3 linked regions of the Homo sapiens genome follow. The protein of the gene in region 1 interacts with the protein of each later gene in a pairwise test. Each region holds a gene or a part of one and is shown in the gene's direction. Other genes may lie near its edges.

What was found. The genes of interacting proteins can lie anywhere in the genome.
Region 2: the proteins of CSTF2 (region 1) and AKAP8L interact in binary tests that used the Homo sapiens proteins (3 or more experiments, as listed by UniProt).
Region 3: the proteins of CSTF2 (region 1) and PARN interact in binary tests that used the Homo sapiens proteins (3 or more experiments, as listed by UniProt).

What each region holds. Positions count from the first base shown.
Region 1 is NC_000023.11:100,830,382-100,837,404, forward strand, and holds part of CSTF2 (cleavage stimulation factor subunit 2), read left to right. Parts: intron 1-426; coding exon of another isoform or gene 427-486; intron 487-668; coding exon of another isoform or gene 669-841; exon of another isoform or gene 842-1,127; intron 1,128-1,133; coding exon 1,134-1,275; intron 1,276-2,352; coding exon 2,353-2,528; intron 2,529-2,798; coding exon 2,799-3,091; intron 3,092-6,957; coding exon 6,958-7,023. UniProt on the Homo sapiens protein: One of the multiple factors required for polyadenylation and 3'-end cleavage of mammalian pre-mRNAs. This subunit is directly involved in the binding to pre-mRNAs.
Region 2 is NC_000019.10:15,380,989-15,388,011, reverse strand, and holds part of AKAP8L (A-kinase anchor protein 8-like), read left to right. Parts: intron 1-7,023. UniProt on the Homo sapiens protein: Could play a role in constitutive transport element (CTE)-mediated gene expression by association with DHX9. Increases CTE-dependent nuclear unspliced mRNA export.
Region 3 is NC_000016.10:14,627,261-14,635,209, reverse strand, and holds the start of PARN (poly(A)-specific ribonuclease PARN), read left to right. Parts: upstream 1-4,949; 5' UTR 4,950-5,084; coding exon 5,085-5,103; intron 5,104-5,535; coding exon 5,536-5,613; intron 5,614-6,958; coding exon 6,959-7,038; intron 7,039-7,873; coding exon 7,874-7,941; intron 7,942-7,949. UniProt on the Homo sapiens protein: 3'-exoribonuclease that has a preference for poly(A) tails of mRNAs, thereby efficiently degrading poly(A) tails.

The sequences.
Region 1 (7,023 bases):
TCCAGATTCAGTGCAGTTTCTTTTATGTTTTGCTTCTGAAACTACATTTATGTTCTTTGCATAACTAGAAGATTCAAAACTATCCTTTTTATATATTTTTTTCCTAATGATTTCATAAGGAGACCTAACGGAAAACTAGTAGCAGAGGTGAAAATCGAAAATGTCAGGTTATTCCCACCTAGATCAAACCAGTGCCCCCATGGGATTCCCTTTCAAAAGCTATCTGGTCAAAATGGAACTATTTCAGAGACCCAAAGGAGCTAGTGTAGTTTAGGGAGATTTTGTAGCCTGGAGCAAGCCGATGAACTCTTGGCTTTTTAACTTATATATGTAAATCTCAATCTCCATGTGTGTGTGTTTCTGCGTGTGTATGCAAGCTATTTTAAGTGTCTGCTCTTTCTCCTTTTGAACTTACTGCTTACCTAGGAACCCTACAGCACTCGCCCGTGGGACCCGCCGGGCCTGCATCAATTGAGCGAGTTCAAGGTACCCATTGTATCTGTGGGTTTCCTTTTGCTTGTGGTGTTCAGGGTGGGACGTTGAGAGGAAAAGAGCTGCGTGGCAGTCATCCTCGCGTTCAGAACCCAAAAGGGTAGTGTTTTTGGGTTTTTGTTTTTTTAATTTTTTCCTGTTGAGGCCACAAGCCTAAGATTGACCTCTTCACACAGGGCAGAGAACATGGATGATATGGGCATCTGTCCGAGGCTGTACTCCCTCCCTACTGGTGTCAGGAGGCTTGGATGGAATAGCAGTCTGTAAGGAGACAGCGGGTTCTTGCAGAGCCATGGCAGTGTTCACATATGCCAAGACTCTACCTCTGTTTTGTGACTCTGGTCCTTGAACTAAGATTGATTAGAAGGAAAACCAGGAGCATAAGTTTCTCCAGGTCGCAGTGCTAGTCCTTGGCAGGTTGCTCCCCAGTTTGCTCTTTATATAATTCCATCCATACCTCTGACATGGCACAGATTCTGCCTACACCCTGCTTCTGTTCTTGAGCTGCAAGAGGATTCTGCTGTGGTGAGGTTTCACCCACTCTAAGGTGTCTGAATTATGTTGTCAGTGGTATATAGAGTCATTTCTTGTTTGCTTATGTGTCTTTCACAGCAGTAACTCCCCGTTTGTTTCCCTGTCAGTGCCGATGCAAGACCCCAGAGCAGCTATGCAGCGGGGATCCTTGCCTGCGAATGTCCCAACCCCTCGAGGCTTGTTAGGAGATGCTCCGAATGATCCACGGGGAGGCACTTTACTTTCTGTAACTGGAGAGGTAGAGCCTAGGTAAGCACTAACATAGAAGGAAACAGTTGAAGAAATCAGAATTGTCCCTTCTTCCCTGAGAACAAAATCTTTCTGTACCAGTTGTACCTGTTTGCCTACTTCAAAAGGTAGATCAATATTCATGGCCACTGTCCAAGGGTAAGCACTTCTCCTAAGGCAGAACTATGTACTTGAGTATGTCATTTTGAGCTATTATATTTTTAGAAATTGGAAATTTTAGTATACATACTTGAACAGGGAAATTTATAGTAGTGGAAATATTAATAATAGCAATAATAGGCCGGGTGCAGTGGCTGACGCCTATAATCCCAGTACTTTGGGAGGCCAAGGTGGGTGGATCACTTGAGGTCAGGAGTTCGAGACCTGCCTGGCCTACATGGTGAAATCCCATCTCTACTAAAAATAGAAAAATTAGCCGGGCGTGGTGGCGGGCGCCTATAATTACAGCTACTGGGGAGGCTGAGGCAGGAGAATCGCTTGAACCCAGGAGGTGGAGGTTGCAGTGAGCCGAGGTCATGCCACTGCACTCCAGCCTGGGCAACAAGAGTGAAACTCCATTTCAAAAGTAAATAAATAAATAAAATAATGATAGTAATAATAATTGACATTAATGGGGATCATGCCTCTGACTCTGCTCTGAGTACTTTACTTAGATCATCTTATTAAATCCACAAGATCCTGTGAGATGGATACCATTATTAGTCCCATTTTACACGTGAAACTGATGTGTGGAAAAGTTAAATAATGTGTCCAATATCACACAGCTAATAAGTGATAGAGCCTAGATTTGAACCCATACAGTCTGAATCCAGAGCTCATGTTCTTATGCATTGTTCTGCAAACTCATACATATAATGAATATTCGTTGATTCCTCCCTAATTATGAACCAAATAACGAAATTCTAGAATACATGGATTTATATCTCTGTAGCTTTTCTTCCATCTATTTGGTGTTATTTTCTTGTTAGTATTCATAGACTACATCAGCTCTTTGTTGGATGTTTACTTACTGATCTGGTTGGTACTTTGTTGTTGTTTTGTTCTATTTTAAAATACAACGTTTTTCTCCATCTCCAGAGGTTACTTGGGACCACCTCATCAGGGTCCACCCATGCACCATGTCCCTGGCCATGAGAGCCGAGGACCACCCCCACATGAACTGAGGGGAGGGCCATTACCCGAGCCCAGACCTCTAATGGCAGAACCAAGAGGACCCATGCTAGATCAGAGGGGTCCACCCTTGGATGGCAGAGGTAAGGGGAGATCACATTGCAAATGCCATAATGAACTCAACTGTCTTAGGCTCTAATCTGGGATAAAGAATGCTGGAACAGTAGGTTTGCAAGCATCTTTAAGGTTTATCCACAAATCTGAGAAACTGGGGAGGAGACAATAGTCTCATATGTTAATAGCTGAGGGGACAAATGTGACTAGAAGAGATTTCTATCTTTCTTGGATTGTTCATCATTCTTGCAGTACATGCAAGTAGCTACATAATGGTTTTGTTACATTTTTCTTTATAGGTGGAAGGGATCCCCGAGGAATAGATGCACGAGGGATGGAGGCCCGAGCCATGGAGGCAAGAGGGTTAGATGCCAGAGGATTAGAGGCCCGTGCAATGGAGGCCCGTGCGATGGAAGCTCGTGCAATGGAGGCCCGAGCGATGGAGGCCCGTGCAATGGAAGTCCGAGGGATGGAGGCCAGAGGCATGGATACCAGAGGCCCAGTGCCTGGCCCCAGAGGACCTATACCTAGTGGAATGCAGGGTCCCAGTCCAATTAACATGGGGGCGGTTGTCCCCCAGGGATCCAGACAGGTATGTGTAACACTGACTTCTGGCATCCAAGTGAAATCTTGATCTATTCAGGAATTGATTATTGAGCCTAATTATTACTGCCTTCTGACTTGGGCTGTTTCTTAGCTTGTTAGAAAGGGAAGACTTGGATCTCCCTGTAGCTTCTCTGTCCCTTAGGGTGGTGATTTTCTGGCTATCAGGATTGTAGTTCAAAAAAAAACAACCTTATCCCACAATAAATAGCTATTCATTTGGAGCAGAGCCCCTGAAAATTTAGGGGTTAGAAAGTAGTCTTGATTGGGGTACAAACCAACATCATGTACACGGTTTTTTCCAAGATATACTTGCCCGGATCTCATCCGAGGTATAACTCAGAATCTCTTATTAGTAGGATCTGAGCATGGATAGTTTGAAAAACTTCCCCCAAATGATTCTAATGTGAACCCTGACTGGGAACCACTGGGTTAGAGTATATGAAGAGCTGTTAGTGGCCATTTAGATAATCTTAGGTTTAGAGAGACCTGTGTTAATTTATTGTCATCACATAGCCTAAGTGAACAGTGGAATGTGAAAGGCAGTTTATTAATAATCACCTTAAAAGGTGTGGAACCGAAGTCTTGTCTCCTCTCTTTTATTTGGATCTCTCTGCCTGTGTGTACATGCTCCCTCTTCATCTCGACTTGGTTGTGGAGAGGTGGTATGTGTGTTTCTTCCGTGAGTTTTTATATGCTGGCACCTTCATTTCCCTCTAACTGCTCCACCTTCCTTTTCCCCCCTTCCTCTGCGTACTTCTCTCTTCTTTTTTTATGTGTCTTCCTCCCCATGTCTGTGTGTATGAGAGAGAGAAAGATAATGGCAGAGCTGGAATGGAATACATCAATCATCTAATTCCCTCAGTTTATAGATTTGGAAATTAAGGCCCAAGAATTCAGGTGACTTGACCAAATTCACATGACTAAAAAGTGGCAGAGCAAGGAACAGAAGCCACTACTTTTTCCACTTTACTACTCTGTCCTGTTATCTGCACATTTGTGTGTGTGTATATGTGTGGATATGTGTCTACCCCCTCCTCTGTAATATGAAATACAAATAGAGGGTTTTTTTGCTATGTGTAGAATAAAACTGTTCTCTATTGTGTTTGAAGTGTTTGTGGGCCTTGATTTTTATTGTACTCTCTATGGTCAGTAGCCTAGTAACAGAAATGGTTTTTATGCATTCATTCTGTCACTCAGCAAATATTTATTGAGCACCTACTATGTACCAAACATAGATCTAGGTACGGGGGATACTGCAGTGTGAACAGAACAAAGCCCCTTCCCCCATGGGCTTACATTCTAGTTGGGAAGACAGATAACAAACAAATAACTACATAATGCGCTTACATAATTTTACTGGTAGTTCTATGATGCAAGACATTGCAAGTAAGGGTTGGAAGAACATTTCTGGATAATATTTTGCTCCTTTCTCTCTGCTGGTACTTGAACTTATTACCCTAATACTAGGTTTATACCATTTTTATTAGTAGATTCGATAAAGCCAATTAGATCTGAGGCAAGAGAAAATACAAATTTTATCTTCAAACCTTTAAAAAAATTTTAAATTAATATATTAACTTATAAATATATATATTCGTTCATCTATAAAAGATATATGTATTAAGAACTTCAAGCCAGGCATGGTGACATGCACCTGTAGTGCCAGCACTCTGGAGGCTGGGGCAGGAAGACCATTTAAGTCTAGGAACTTGAGGCTGTGGTGCATTCTGATCGCACCTGTGACTAGCCACTGCACTCCAGCCTGGGCAGCATATTAGACTCCCATCTTTAAAAAAAAAAAAAAAGCCAGGGTAGAATCCTGTAGTCCCAGCTACTCTGGAGGCTAAGGCAGGAGGATCAGTAGAGCCCAGGAGTTGGAGGCCCGCCTACACAAGATAGTGAGACCACATCTTAAACTAAAAGGAACCTTGCTTCCTCTCCTATGCTTGTCTCCCCTGTGGCCCTCTAGGTCCTGTAGATAATCACTTTTATTAGATTTTTCATGTTACTTTCTGGAAAACATGAATATATATTATTTTTCCCCTTTCACTGTTCTATACCTTTTTTTTTTTTAACTTAACAACATGTCCTTAATTCATACTTTTAAATTAGATTTTAAAATTAACTCTAGTCCACTTAGTTAGAAACTTGTGGGCAAAAGGCTTATTATTACTAGGGTGATTATATAATTTATCATCTAAAGGAGAACATGAAAGAAAGTGCTGTTACTTTACTTGGAGGCAAAAACATAAACTGGGACTATCTTAGGGAAACCAAGATGTATGGTCACTTTTGCTAGTACTTGTCTGCCTAGAACAAGCACACCTAGAAACTTAAAATGGCCGTTATTGAGTGGTTAGATCACAATTACAGTACCTCAGATTAAAGCTTCAAAAAGATTATACTCAATTCCGAATTGTGCTGCTATAAACTCATGTGACCAAACACCACCTGTTCCCCAATAACCTATGGAAATAAAAAATTTTAAAAAAAAAGATTATACTCATAGGTGTTTCAGACCCATAATAGCTCGTTAATGTTCAGACTGGTCTCTGGAAACTTGTCTCTGGTTTCAGTATTGATAATGAACAGAACAGTGATAATATTCTAGCAGTCTATACAAATCTGTACTAATGTTTCATCTATCCATTGTCTTTGGGAAATGAGTTAATGCATGTAAGTGAATGTTCCAGATAATAGAACTATTCTACCAAGTTTTTTAACTTTTTTAATAAAAAATTATAAAAAGTATTTGATATTTCCTTTCTTGAACAGGATACAAAAAAATAGTTTAATCAGTTTTGACTACTCAAGGTCATCATTGAATAGATTCATTATTGTCTATACCGTAATATAAAACATAGTTATCTCCTGTTTGGTTTCTGGTCTCCTTCACTGTCAGGCCGTCACCTGGCTCTTCATATTACTGAAGTGGTATCTGCTCCTAACAGTTATTTATCCGTATTTCTTTTATGTTTTGCTGCTTCTAATCTGCTGGGTAAGCAGGTAACAAGTTTGTTAACAATATGTGTTTATTAAGAGAGTACCTAAGCTCTGGGTGAATGCCTGAGTGTGAACATAATGCTTGTATAGGGACATTCTAACAGTTAGATTTGGTACTCAAGAGGTCTTTTCCTTGGGTTCTGGTAGTCTTGCAAAGGGTTGAACTCATTGAAGATCTTAAGTACCAGTAAGTATGATATCACTGTACTTGGTTTTTTCACTCCAGTCAGTCATATTTTTTGGTCTACATTTAGCAGAAAGCATCTGCCATATGTTCTCTATGGAAAGCTATAAACAGCAAATGTTGGGCTAATAGCAGTCTTTTTCCTGGAGGCCTTCCCATTGCCTTTCTGCCTCTCTGACATTATGAACATCTCTGCCTCACTTGTGGGATAGGGCCCTTTGGGACAAACTACCTGTATCTGATTGAACTAGGGTAGGGGGTGGCCCTGTGAATGTAACTTCCCCAGTGGACCAGCATACATTTTCTCTAGACTCTGTTGGCTTTCATTTGTATTTCCAGTGAGCACTAGTTTCCAGGGTGTTCTCAGTTTTCACTGTGCTTATTTGGCTGAATTTTGATTAATTCAGTGGTATCCAGTTGTGCTGTGTAATATTTGTTGATGATGCTGGAGGTGTTGTAAGCAAGTATGTCGAACTTGCTAGTTGATCTCTGGCTAAACCCTGCCTTCTGCTATTGCTAACAGTAGAAAATGATCTTCAGAGTCATTGATTTGCTTTTTTTACTCATATCTGTATAGAGATCATAATTTGTCACATTATTACTGAATTCAGGTTACCTATACATTAAAAATGCCAAAAATCTCTCTTTTCTCTTTGTACACATAGGTCCCAGTCATGCAGGGAACAGGAATGCAAGGAGCAAGTATACAGGGTGGAAGCCAGCCTGGCGGC
Region 2 (7,023 bases), on another chromosome or scaffold:
TTTGGGCTCCTTTATAGGGATTTTTTTCCCCTCCCCTCCCCGCCCCCTCTCCCAGACAAGAGTCTTGCTCTGTTGCCCAGGCTGGAATGCAGTGGCGCGATCTTGGCTTGCTGCAACCTCCACCTCTCAGGTTCAAGCAATTCTCCTGCCTCAGCCTCCCGAGTAGCTGGGATTACAGGCATGTGCTACCACGCCCGGCTAATTTTTGTATTGTTAGTAGAGACGGGGTTTCACCATGTTGGCCAGGCTGGTCTCGAACTCTTGATCTTATGAGCCACCCACCTCAGCCTCACAAGGTGCTGGGATTACAGGCGTCAGCCACTATGCCAGGCCCAAGAGGGATGGTTTTTGAGGTGGTTGTTTGAGATTTATTCTGAACCCAGGGAGTCTGTTCTTAGCTATTTCACTGGTCCTTGTCCTCTTTGGTAACCTAGTTAGCCTATGGGTTAGCTAATATCACTGTCAAATCTACCGGTCCTTCTTTTTTATGGCTGTGTGGTGGGGGAAAAAAAAAAGGACAAAGCTATCAGTGTTTAACTCCAATAAATATTCAGAAAGAAAAAAAAAAGCTATCAATGTCCTTTTAATTTTTTTCCTCCCTAGTCTCCATTGTTTTTGAGAGAGGCCCTAGTCTTGCACTTCCCAACACTCTTGCCAGTGAAGTCAGTCAGTTCCTTTGAGATTGGGAGTTTACTGATTTAAGGCCGTGCTCTCACTGTGGGCAGAATCTCTGAGCCAAGGCTCTGGGGATGGAGACAATGGAGTACCTCTCTCTGAGTGACTCTGCCACTTTAGGAGAGACATGGGAGGAGGTACAGTAGGCTGTAGCCTCCGGTCTTGGTTTGCCTTTCCTGGCATGGGACCTCTGCTTTATGAACAAGCCATGGGTATGTGAGCCCTTATATTCTTAGTGTGCCATGCCCAGGGTCAAGCCTCCATTCCACGTGCGTGTGGCTGGGTAGAAGATAGGAACCGTTCTCTCTCAGCTATGCTTGTCTAGAACTTAGCCTCATCAGCAGGTAGCTGGGGGCGGGATGAGAGATACTGACATCCGGCTGGGTACAGTGGCTCACGCCTGTAATCCCAGCACTTTGGGAGGCCAAGGTGGGCAGATCACCTGAGGTCAGGAGTTCAAGACCAGCCTGGACAACATCGTGAAACCCCATCTTTACTAAAAATACAAAAATTAGCCGGGCTTGGTGGCGGGCACTTGTAATCCCAGCTACTCGGAAGGCTGAGGCAGGAGAATTGTTTGAACCCGGGAAGTAGAGGTTGCAGTGAGCCGATATCACGCCATTGCACTCCAGCCTGGGCAACCAAGAGTGAAACTCCAACTCAGAAAAATAGATGCTGACATTCTGTTCCTCCTGGGAAGATATCATACCCCTTAACTGAGATGATCTGGGTAGATGCGGGCAGACCTGTCTTCTTGGCTGTACTGTCTGGAGTGGAGTTTCCATCACACTAAGCTGGGGGAGGCAGGGATGCAATAGGTTGTGTTTCAGACATCACAACTCTTCATGGAACTGAGTTTTAGTAGCTTTTCCTCATTAAATCTTTCTCATAGGGCTGTATGTCCTTAGGAACATTTTCAGAGACTTTAAATGGTTGTTTTTTAATACTTTTCATCAGTTTCACTAGGGAGTGTTCCAGGGAACGCCTCAGACTGCTATGCTAGAGTCTGTCCTCTCAATATTTAGGAAGCTTCTTAAACCTTAATTCCAAAATTCTGATAAAGATGATACCAAAATGAAACTGTAGATTAGTTTACTATTATTAAAGATATGAAAGTGGGCTGGATTGGCCGGGCGCGGTGGCTCATGCCTGTAATCCCAGCACTTTGGGAGGCCGAGGCAGGCGGATCACGAGGTCAGGAGATCAAGACCATCCTGGCTAACACGGTGAAACCCCATCTCTACTAAAAATACAAAAAATTAGCCGGGCGTAGTGACGGGCGCCTGTAGTCCCAGCTACTCGAGAGGCTGAGGCAGGAGAATGGTGTGAACCCAGGAGGCGGAGGTTGCAGTGAGCCGAGATCGCGCCACTGCACTCCAGCCTGGGCAACAGAGTGAGACTCCTCAAAAAAAAAAAAAGAAAAAAAAGAAAGAAAGTTGGCTGGATATAGTGGCTTATACCTGTAATCCCAGCACTTGGGGAGACTGAGGTGGGAGGATCATTTGAGCCCAGGAGTTCAAGACCAGCCTGGGCAATATAGTGAGACACTGTGTCTATAAAATTAAAAATAAAAAAATTAGCCAGGTACTGGGGCCTGTGGTCCCAGCTACTTGGGAGGCTGAGGTGGGAGGATCACCTGAGCCCAGGAGGTTGAGGCTGCAATGAGCTGTGATCGTGCCACTGCATTCCAGCCGGGGCAACAGAGCAAGACTCTGTCTCAAAAAAATAAATAAAATGAAGTGCTAAATAAAATATTAGTAACTATCAATCTAGTAGTGATCCCTATGTATGATACATTATAAGTAAGGTTTGTTTCTGGAATGGAGGGATGGTTCCCTAAGAAATCTAGCAACAGTTGCCGGGCGCGGTGGCTCATGCCTGTAATCCCAGCACTTTGGGAGGCCGAGGTGGGTGGATCACGAGGTCAGGAGATCGAGACCATCCTGGCTAACACGGTGAAACCCCATCTCTACTAAAAATACAAAAAATTAGCCAGACGTGGTGGCGGGCGCCTGTAGTCCCAGCTACTCGGGAGGCTGAGGCAAGAGAATGGCATGAAAGGCCGGGCGCGGTGGCTCACGCCTGTAGTCCCAGCACTTTGGGAGGCCGAGGCGGGCGGATCACGAGGTCAGGAGATCGAGACCATCCCGGCTAAAACGGTGAAACCCCGTCTCTACTAAAAACACAAAAAATTAGCCGGGCGTGGTGGTGGGCGCCTGTAGTCCCAGCTACTTGGGAGGCTGAGGCAGGAGAATGGCGTGAACTCGGGAGGCGGAGCTTGCAGTGAGCCGAGATCCCGCCACTGCACTCCAGCCTGGGCAACAGAGCGAGACTCCGTCTCAAAAAAAAAAAAAAAGAGAATGGCATGAACCTGGGAGGCGGAGCTCGCAGTGAGCTGATATCGCGCCACTGCACTCCAGCCTGGGCGACAAAGCGAGACTCCGTCTCAAAAACAAAAACAAAAAATCTAGCAATATTATTGGTATAATGCAAACTCTCTTTATGTGCAAATAATGTGATTATGCTCTTAGAAAAGCTGAATGATCCCAGCAAAATGTTCTTAGAATTAATAGAATTTGGTAAGGGGATGGGATTCAAAATAGCGTACAAAAAGTCGTAGTGTTTCTCTATTCTAGTATTAACCAGTTAGAAATTTAAATGGAAAAAAAACTACTTAAAATAACCACACAATGTATGAAATAGCTAAGAATACAGATTTAAGAAGAAAGACTTGAGGGCCAGGCATGGTGGCTCATGCCTGTAATCCCAGCACTTTGGGGAGGCTGAGGCGGGTGGATTGCCTGAGGTCAGGAGTTTGAGACCAGCCTGGCCAACATAATGAAACCCTGTCTCTACTAAAATACAAAAAATTAGCTGGGCGTGGTGGTGGGCGCCTGTAATCTCAGCTACTCAGGGGGCTGAGGCAGGAGAATCGCTTGAACCTGGGAGGCGGAGGTTGCAGTGAGCCAAGATCGCGCCATTGCACTCCAGCCTGGGCAACAAGAGCAAAACTCCGTCTCAAAAAAAAAAAAAACAGGGAGGGAAGAAGAAAGGCTTGAGATCTTTTAAGAACTGCAAATACTCCAAGGATATGAAATAAGACCTTAGCCGGGCACGGTGGCTCACGCCTATAATCCCAGCACTTTGGGAGGCGGAGGCAGGTGAATCACTAGGTCAGGAGTTCAAGACCAGCCTGGCCAAGATGGTGAAACCCTGTCTCTACTAAAAATACAAAAAATTAGCCGGGTGGGGTGGTGGGTGCCTATAATCTCAGCTACTTGGGAGGCTGAAGCAGAGAATTGCTTGAACCTTGGAGGTGGAGGTTGCAGTGAGCTGAGATCATGCCACTGCATTTCAGCCTGAGCAACAGAGCAAGACTCCATCTCAAAAAAAAAAAAAAAAAAAAAAAGAAATAGACCTTAATGAATGGAGGAATGTTCTGTGTTCTTAAATAGGCAATTTAATAGTGAAACAAAACAAAAACCAGTTCTCTCCAAATTAATATAGACAGCACATTTCTAGTCAAAAATATCAGTCGGGGAGTAGGACTGAATGAAATGAAATTATTTTAAAGTTTTACATTGTAAAATTCAGTCTAACAATAGCTGAGAGATTGATTTCAGAAATACTAAAACTTACTACAAAGCTGCTGCAATTAAAAAACAAAAAAAGTGATAATTAGCACAGTAATGAAACAGTGGAACCAGAATAGAGAGTCTAGCAAAAGATCTCAGTATATTTCAGACTTAGTAATTTGTTAAAGTTAGTACAGATATTTTATCTGAAACCTTAGGGCCAGAAGCCTCAGAATTAATTTTTCAGCTTCAGAAAACCAATATGCAAGGCTGGGGGCAGTGGCTCACACCTGCAATCCCAGCACTTTGGGAGGCTTAGGTGGGATTGCTTGAGCCCAGGAGTTCCTGACCATAGTGAGATCTCGTCTCTACAAAAAATAAAAAATTAGCCAAGCATGGTGGTGAGTGCCTATAGTCCCAGCTACTCAAGAGGCTAGCATGGGAAGATCACTTGAGCCCAGGAGTTTGAGGCTGCAGTGAGCCGTGATCACACAATGGCAGTGCAGCCTGGGCAACAGAGTGAGACTCCTATCTCTAAAATAAAATAAAAAGAAAGACAATATGGTATTAGCACTAACCTCTCCAACAGGATCTGGGGAAAGCGCCTTGTAGTTGAGTCACAAATAATTCTTCACATGACTTACATATAAATGAAAAATGTAATGTCAGTTCACATTTAGCCACCAAATGAATTTTGGGGGAAGACTTGTTTTCTAGAGCCTTTTGGATTTCCAGTTTATAGATAAGGGATGGTAGACCTATATGCCAATTTGGTAGGGAAATAAATGGTGTGTTTTGTACATTTCTGGAAAAGAAAATTTTGGACCCTCTACCTCATAACATATACAGATTGAGTTCATCCGTCATCTGAAAATCCGAAATGCTCCGAAATCCAAAACCTTTTTCTTTAAGAAAAAAGAATTGAGTCTTGCCATGTTGTGCAGGATGGAGTGCAGTGGCTGGTCGCAAGTGAAATCATTGCACACTATAGCCTTGAACTCCTGAACTTGAGCAATCCTCCTGCATCAGCCTCATGAGAGTAGCTGAGACTACAGGCACGAGACACTGTGCCCAGTAAAATCTGACTTTTTCAGCACAGACATGACAAAGTAAATGCTCATTGAAGCATTTCAGATTTTGGGTTTTTGGAGTAGGGATGCTCAACTGGTAAGTATAATGCAAATCAAAATCTGAAAGACTTCTGGTCATAAGCACTTTGAATAAGGGATACTCAATCTGTATCAAATTCTAGAAAATTTGGCTGGGCGTGGTGGCTCACGCCTGTAATCACAGCACTTTGGGAAGCCGAGATGGGTGGAGGTCCTGAGCTCAGGAGCTCAAGACCAGTCTGGGCAACATAGGAAAACCCTGTATCTACTAAAAATACAAAAAAGTAGCTGGGTGTGGTGGTGCGTGCCCGTAGTCCTAGCTACTCAGGAGGCTGAGGCATGAGAATTGCCTAAACCTGGGAGGCGGAGGTTGCAGTGAACTGAGAGCCCCTGCACTCCAGCCTGGGCGACAGAGCGAGACTGTCTTAAAAAAAAAAAAAAAAAATTTAAATGTGAAAAATGAAAACCAAGATCAGAAAATAGTTAGAAAATTATAAACTGTGGGCGGGTGTTCCAGTGTGCTTACCAGAGCACTCACTCGCCGGTGGGCAGGGAAATGCCGTGGGAGGCAGCAGCACAGATTCTTCTGTCTTTTATCCACAGCAAAAATACCCAACAGTGACAACATCCAGTGCTGATGGGCAGGCAGGAGGACCAGGTCATTGTTTTAACACAGGTGGAAGAAGCATGACTTGCAAATGTTCTGCAGTTAATTGGGCACTATCACTTTGAAACCAAACCTGGTTAGAATGAAAAGCACCAGCATGGAAGTGTACAAGTTTATTCTAGTGTTGCTGGGTTATTGTGGAGAAGATCTGGAAGCAACATAAATGTGCCTCACTTGGGAGAATTTATGGTGTGGTTATCTGGGCATCTAGAACCAGGAGGATAAACTGTTGGCAAGTGAGAGTCACTGGGGGAACGGTCTATAGTAGTATCCTAATTGTGTATCTTTAGTTTATTGTGAGCATGTATGATGTCTGTTAATATTTTCCTCCAGTAGTAGAGAAAACGTGCTAAGGAAAAAAAAAAATGAAGATGGAGAGAGTAGAAACAGCAAGTGAGAAGGCTTTCTGAAACATGTAAATGGAGTGGGAAGGACTCAATGGGCTCTCCCACCCCACCAAAAATATCCTTCTTTTACCTTATGGTTTTTATAATGATCAAAGTGAGATTTGCCTGTACTCCCACCATGAGATGGCCCAGCATATTGATGGAAATCCTTCCAGACAAAATGGCTCTGGCATGCTCTGCAGACAGTACTATATTATACACCTTTCTTATGCCAGTGCAGAGATGAGCCCGATTTGAAGGGCTGCATGATGTTCTTTTGAATGTACGATTTATTTAACCTCTTCTGCACTGAGGAACGTTTAGGTGTTTTCCCATTTTTCACCACTACAATCAGTGTGCACGCATGTTTCCAGTTCTTAAATTTAGGATACGTTCTGGGAAGGGATTAATGAGACAGATTTTTACTTTTCATACATTGTGTCAAACTGCTTTCCAAAAAATACGGAAACAGTTGATCCTCCCACCAGCAGAGAAGACTCTCTTCACCCTTGCATGACTGGGAATAATTCTTCATTCTTGGAATTCTGTGGGTTAAAAAAGACGTTTCATTAAATATCTGTTCCTGTTTTTATATCTTCCCCGTTGGCCCC
Region 3 (7,949 bases), on another chromosome or scaffold:
GCGTCCACCACCATGCCCAGCTAATTTTTGTATTTTTAGTAGAGACAGGGTTTCACCATGTATCCCAAGCTGATCTTGAACACCTGAGCTCAAGCAATCTGCCCGCCTTGGCATCCCAAAGTGCAGGGATTACAGGAGTGAGCCACCGTGCCTGGCCTTGGACATTTTTCCTTATCCTCACATTGTTCCCTTCACCTGTAACACAACTTCACAACATCGCTGGGTCAAAAGTATCCAACTGGAAAGACCCAAATCAACTGTCACTTGAAAGTCTTTAATGACTAACTCCTCAACACCCAAATTAATCTTTCTTGTCTCTGTGCATTAGCATAACTTTTATTTGTGTACGTTTTCTCATCTCCTGGATTATAATTTCCTTAGGCTGGTAGAGTTGAAACAGTATGGTCTTAGGAGTGACACTGATCTGGGTTCCAAATCGCGTCACGATTTATTCTTCCTAAACTTCCTATTTCCCACTGATCCGTCTAGGATAATCATGTCAACTTCGAAGGGCTGTTGGGAGGTTTACTTTAAAAAAATTTTTTTAAGAGACAGCGTCTCCCTATGTTGCCTAGGTTGGTCTGGTCTCCTGGGCTCAAGGGATACTCCCACTTCTGCCTCCCAAACTGCTGGGATTACAGGCGTGAGCTGCGGAGCCCCGCCCTGCTGTGAGGTTTAGATGACAAACTATCTACAGGTACTCAAAGTTTGCTGTGTGGGGCTGATCGGCATTATTAACAGAATTATCAATAGCAGCATTTATTGAGTGATGGCTACCTACTTAGTGGCACTGCCAAACGCTGGAACCAAAAAGCAAACAAAAAGAACTGCCCTGGAGAAATACAATGTCTCCATCAAGTTTATGGATATAGGGAAATGCAGAGCACACCTGTCAGGATACACCCAGGCTGGATGTTGAGAAAACAGCAGCGACAAGAACAAACAAAACAACCCCATCAGCACGTGCAGTCCCTGCCGGCTCGGGGGTGTGTCCTGGGAAGAGAGTAAAGCTCTTTCCTATTGGCGATTTGGAGCATGACATCAAGACCACCCCCCTTGCAAAGGACCGACCAATGGGCTTCGGCGGGGAGGACCCAATGGCGACAGTTGAGGGCTTAACAGCGTCTAGGCTCTCACTCTGTTTTCCGCGGAAGCTGGGATGCTGCCTCCTGCCCCTCCAAAGGTCCCCGTTTAGACACAACCTGACTCTCATCTGTCGCCCCCTCCCGCCGGCTTTTTTAATAAAAGACAATTCTCGGCCGGGCGCGGTGGCTCACGCCTGTAATCTCCCCACTTTGGGAGGCCGAGGCGAGTGGGTCACTTGAGGCCAGGAGTTCGAGAACAGTCTGACCAACATGGTGAAACCCCGTCTCTACTAAAAATACAAAAATCAGCCGGGCGTGGTTACGCGGGCCCGTAATCCCAGCTACTCAGAAGGCTGAGGCAAGAGAATCGCTTGAACCTGGGAGGCGGAGGTTGCAGTGAGCCGAGATTGCTCCACCGCACTCCAGCCTGGGCGGCAGGGCAAGACTCCGTCTCTAAAAAGAAAAAAAAGAAAATTCTCTTTTGCCTAAGTTATTTCCGAGCCGCAAGTCGCAGAATCAGAAGAGCCGAGTTCTTGCCTGGCCCCAGTGTGACTTTGGGATTTCACTTTCTCCCTTCTGCGCTTCGGTCACCCTACTTTAAAGAATGGGCACAATCGCTCCGCCTTAGGCCAGGAACGTGCCTCGACAATTAGACCGTAAACTCAGCGTGGCGACTATCAGAAGCCTCATCAATTCTGGTCCGGCTGTTGCAGGGTGTGGCAAGCGCTCCTGGCGGGCAGGCGCCCCGTGGTTCCCCTCCAAGGTGTTTGGAAGCGACCCCTCCTCCTTCCCGCCCTAGGGAGCCCCAGGAGGGAGTGGCTCTGACCCTGACCCCCGAAAGGACGCAGGCGAGGCCCAGCGACCGGCTGTGCGGACGTGGGGCTCTCGGGAAGGGATAGCGCAGTTGGCCAAGCTGGGGTCCGAACCCCGCGGCCAGGAGTGGGGATGCTCAGGACTCGGGCCTGCGTGAGGAGAGGCCCCGCGCGCCTCCTACGACCCGGCTGGGGAGGCTCCGCAGAAGGGATTCCCGCTCCGTCTTCCACATCACTCCCCGATATCAAGCCCGAGTCGCCCCCTCAGCACCCCCCAGCCGTGTCGCGGCTTACCATTCCACTCGTCCCGGGCCAACCGGGCCATTATTCTCAGCACAGACCCCGCGGGAGCAGAGGAAGAGGGAGAGGCTTCGCTACCGGAAGTAACAAGACAGAGTGGGGGAAGCGTGCCCCGGCCCCGTGACCATAGAGGAGAGGCCGCTCTCCTTTCACAACCCCCCTCAACCCCGCGACCTCCCCGCTGCCTAGAGCGGCCACTCCCAGCCGGAGGAAGTGGGCGCATGCGTAATACCGCCGGTCCCGCCCCTTCCTCTTCACCCAGAGACCGAGTACCCGGGCTCGGCAGTCACAGCCCAAGGGGTGACGGGTGTGTGTCAGTTTCCGCTCCTCCTGGGCGGCTGTTCTTGTATCCGGAGGATACAAGCTTTGCCTAGAAATTAAAATATTACAAGGCCGCACCGTACTCTCTACAGTTATTTTTTGCCTTCACATTTTATGTAGAAAATCACAGGACTATACGTTCAATTTACGGTGTTAAGAATCGGAATTAAATGACTTTTATTTCTATTAAAATATTTTTTTTTTCGTAGAGATGGGGTCTCGCTGCGTTTTCCAGGCTGATCTTGAACATATGGCGTCAAGGGATCCTCCTGCCTCAGCCTTACAAAGTGCTGCGATTACAGGCGTGAGCCACCTCGTACAGCTTGAAATGGTTTTCTTATCACCACGTTTCGCCCCTTCCCAGCGTCTAGGTCACAGCGTCTAGAACTTATGCTGATTATTTGGTTTTGTTTTGTTGTTGTTGTTTGTTTTTGAGACAGAGTCTCACTCTCACCCGCCAGGCTGGCGTACAGTGGCACGATCTTGGCTCACTGCAACCTCCGCCTCCCGGGTTCAAGCGATTATCCCACCTCAGCCTCGTGAATAGTTGGGACTACGGGCGTGCACAACCACGCCTGGCTCATTTTAAAATTTCATTTTATTTTTATGGAGACAGGGTCTCGCTCTTTTCCCCAGGCTGGTCTGGAACTCCTGGGTTCAGGCGATTCTCCTGCCTCAGCCCCCGAAAACGCTGGGATTACAGGTGTGAGTCATGGCGCCAGGCCCCCATTAAACAGTTATTTATACAGATTTATTAATACGCTGCTTCCCAGTTCACATTCATTAGCACCACTGAGCCTCAATACAATCCCAGGAAATTGAGGTTTAGGAAGGTTTAATGCATTCCAGAACTAATAAGTGGCTGAGATAGATTTTGAAAATAGGTCTTCTAATCAACTTTCCTTTTGTTCGTTTGTTTGTTTTGGAGACGGAGTCTCGCTCTGTCGCCCAGGTTGGAGTGCAGTGGCACAATCTTGGCTCACTGCAACCTCCGCCTCCCGGGTTCAAGCAGTTCTCCTGCCTCAGCCTCCCGAGTAGCTGGGACTACAGGGGTGCGCCACCACGCCAGGCTAATTCTTTGTATTTTAGTAGAGATGGGGTTTCACCGTGTTGCCCAGGCTGGTCTCGAGCTCCTGGCCTCAAGCAATCCGCCTGCCTCGGCCTCCCAAAGTGCCAGGATCACAGGCGTGAGCCATCGCATCCGGCACTAACCAACTTTTCATAGTTGGCTTTTGTGAAAGACCAACCTGAATGTATTCATTCAACCCATGCTTATTGAGTGTCTACTACGTGTCAGCCCAGTGCTAGGCATTGGAGAACAGCAACCCCAAACCAACATACAATTCCATTAGGGCCGGGCCTCATATGTTGCACTCGACATAGTATTCCCAGAGGCTAATGCAGTAGCTAAGGGTCTCAGCTTTGCTTTCCGTGATCACCTAAGTAACAACCCCTATTATTCTTTTAATTTAATTTAATTTTTTTTTTGAAAACAAGTCTCGTTCTGTCACCCAGGCTGGAGTGCAGTGGCGTGATCTCGGTTCACAGCAACCTCCGCCTCCCAGGTTCAAGAGATTCTCCTGCCTCAGCTTCCCGAATAGCTGGGATTACAGGCGCGCACCACTGCACCCGGCTAATTTTTTGTATTTTTAATAGAGACAGGGTTTCACCATGTTGGCCAGGCTGCTCTTGAACTTCTGACCTCAGGTAATCCGCCCGCTTCTGCCTCCCAAATCGCTAGGATTACAGGCATGAGTCACCAAGCCCAGCCAATTTTTATATTTTTAGTAGAGACAGGGTTTCACTATGTTGGCCAGGCTGGTCTCGAACTCCTGATCTCGTGATCCGCCCGCCTCGGCCTTCCAAAGTGCTGGGATTACAGGCATAAGCCACCGGGTCCGGCCTAATTTTATTTTTTTAAGAGACAGGTCTCACTATGCTGTCCAGGCTGGTCTCGAACTCTTCAGTTCAACGGATCCTCCCGCCTCGGGTTCCCAAAGTGTTAGGCTTACAGGCGTGAGCCACCGCACCCGGATCCCATTATTCTCTATTACATCGCCCCGCTCTTTTTCTTAATAGCGATTTTCATGTGTTACCAAATGGCAAGTTTCACTCCTGCCTGAATTTCCCCTTACCCCAAGTTTAAGCTACAATGGGGCAGGGAGCACGTCTTCCTGTTCATCACTGTATCTCCACCCCTGTAAGAGTGGCTAGCATATCACAGAAACCCAGTCAGTATTTCCTGGTCGACTGGATGTCGAGACATGCACATTTTTTCTACTGAAGTGAAAGCCCGCACAAATTAGGCCACGCCTTGGGGACTTCGATAGCCACGCCCCTCCCCTGTCCCTATAAGGAGGGAAAGGAGCCCAGCCTTGGCCCCGCCCCCGCCGCCGCGCAGGCGCTGACGCAAGCGCAGCAGGCGCGCGCTGTTTCCGGAAGTCGCGGCCGGCGTCACCGCTGCGGCTGCCTCAGCTACTGCCGCAGTCGCCGCGGAATTCGGCGAGTAGAACCGCTGAGGCGGGCGCGGGCCCGGGTGGGGCCAAGGTTCCGGCCACTCTGCAGAATGGAGATAATCAGGAGCAGTGCGTGTCCGCCGTACACCTCCCCGCCTCCCCACACCCGGCTGCCCCTGGCCTGCTAGGCCGAGACCATGGCCGGCGTGTTTGGCTGGGCCTGGGGCTGAGGCAGCCCCTCAGGGCTTTTCCCTCCTTAAGCCGGTGCGCCTCTTGGGGTCTTTTCCGGCTGCGGACCGTGCACCCTAGGAGCCTTGTACTTACTCCTCCAACCCCGGCACCATCCGGGGCCTTGTCCTTCTCCGGGCCGGGCACCCCCCGGGGCTTGTCCCCCCTGACCCATGCACCCCTCGAGGACTTGATTCCCCTCGCCCCGGTGCACACCTCCGGGACTTTTCCCCTTCCGGCTCTCAGCCTCGGGAGCTCCTCGGCCCTCCTTCCCTCTCCCCTTAGCAGGAATTCAGGCCACTGGTTCTGAGCCTCTTTTCGGTTTCTCCGCAGATTTTAAGAGTAATCTTCACAAAGTGTACCAGGCCATAGAGGAGGCCGACTTCTTCGCCATCGATGGGGAGTTTTCAGGTATCCCTCCCTTGCAAGCTCAGGCTAGCACTTTGCAGTGCATAGCCAAGGCTCCTTCAATCCCCCAGCCCCCAACTTCTTATGCTTGGTGGTGGCCTCTTGCTGTTAGTAGCCTTGGGCGGGTTTCACAGGTCTCAGTGTTACCCTTTAAACGTTTCAAAAGCACGAAAGAAATGAAGATACGCCGTAGGTTTGTGATTGGACTCAGGATCTCAGATAGAGATGATGGTTTTGATGCTGCTTAAAACAGTGCGGCGTGTACATTGCAGAGAGCTTGAGGATTAGGGTCAGACTGTTTTTTTTCTTGATTGTAAAATAGGTATAACATGAAATTTGCCATTTTAAGTGGCTTTACAGTTAAGTGGCATTAAGTACATTCACATTGCTGTGCAAACATCACCATCCATCTCTAGGACTTCTTCATCTTCACAGTCTGAAACTCTTTACACATTAAACTCCCCATTTCTCCTTTCGCCCAGCCTTTAGCAACCGCCATTTGTCTCTGAATTTGACTGCCCTTAACATCTCATATAAGTGGAATCTTACAATATTTGCCCTTTTGTGACCGGCTAGGGTCAGGTTTTTGCAGATAAATGAGATATTTCTTTATGCATTAGTGGACGTGTTCATTGCCTGCCTCAACAGGTGTGTATACAGGAAATACTTCACTGACACTTAAAGTTGCAAATTTTTTTTCCCCTTTTTTAGGGGGAGCAAAGACTAGTTTTTAAATTGCTGATGTCAATATGAACGGTTCACTCCCTTTGATATGGATATCCATTTTTGCTGTCTGATTTTCCATGTTTGAATCATGAAGGAATCCATGCAGGGGTAAATAGTATCCTTGGCTTTAGGTAGTGTCTAGTTGGAATCACTTCCCTAGGAAGCTAAGAGTTTTCACTTAGAGAAATAATTTTCTCTTAATCTTGAAGATACATTCTTTGCATAGATATTAACCACTCCAAACTCTTGACCAAGACTGGAACTCTGGCAATAATATACTTAGGGATTTATTGATGTCTGTTTATACAGGAATCTTTTAAAGCAGCAAAACTTATTCAAGCATAGAGATTGTTTTCTTACATGATTACTGTGTTTTAAGTCATGTTTTAGACGCTGGAACTGCCTATTCTCATGTTGAAACATTCGCATCTCTAAGTTCATTATTAGAGGGTTTAACCTGGTGGCCACTGAAATTAATGCTTATTTTAAAAAAGTAAGTTAGGGAGTGCTTCCAAGTAACCTTAATTCGTGATACGACATTATAGAGGCACTGAATGATTGACTGGCATTTTTACGTTAGTATTTATTAGTAAGCTAAAAATTTTTATTTCTTAAAATCTAGGAATCAGTGATGGACCTTCAGTCTCTGCATTAACAAATGGTTTTGACACTCCAGAAGAGAGGTATCAGAAGCTTAAAAAGGCAAGTGGATGTGCTAGGAAATCTTTTTCTTTCTCATGTTAGTCTTCCTTATGTTAAATGATAAATATTGTTACTAAACTTGTGCATTAAGGTTTTGTAAGTGCAGTATTTTCTCCTCAAACCTAGCCATGAAGTGATTTTTTTTTTTGTTTTGTCTTGTTTTAGAGACAAGGTCTCGCTCTGTCACCCAGGCTGGGGTGCAGTGGCGTGATCACTGCTCTGTGGAGCCTTGAACTCCTGGCTCAACTGATTCTCCTGCCACAGCCTCCCAAGTAGTTGGGACTACAGGCGCAAGCCACTGTGCCCAGCCAATTATTATTATTTTTTTTAATTTTTACATATTCTTTTGTAGAGATCGGTCTCACTTTGTTGACCAGGCTGGTCTCGAACTTCTGGCGTCAAATGATCCTCCTGCTTTAGCCTCCCAAAGTGCTGGGATTACAGGTGTGAGCCACCACACCTGGCCTTAAAGTGTTATTTTAATGATATTTAAAACAGCAAAAATAATTGTTTGCTGGAAAATATTTTGGGGAAAGTTTAGCATTTTCAGTGTTAATTTGATTCATAGGAAATATGAGGCAGTTATTTTAATCATTTGGAAATAGACCTAATATGATTCTTTGGATGATGGATAAATAGGTCCTTAAATGGGAAAAGTATTATGAAATGTATACAAATTAATAATGCTTCTGATTCATATGTGTAATCTGTTCTAATTGGAAGTATTCTGCTGAAGTCTCATTGAGTAATTCAGAAAGCCCACCTGTTTGAGAATGCTATGCTCACATGGAATATGCAGCACTTTTGTGACAGATGTTTTATTTCCCTTTTCCAGCATTCCATGGACTTTTTGCTATTTCAGTTTGGCCTTTGCACTTTTAAGTATGACTACACAGATTCAAAGTAGGTTG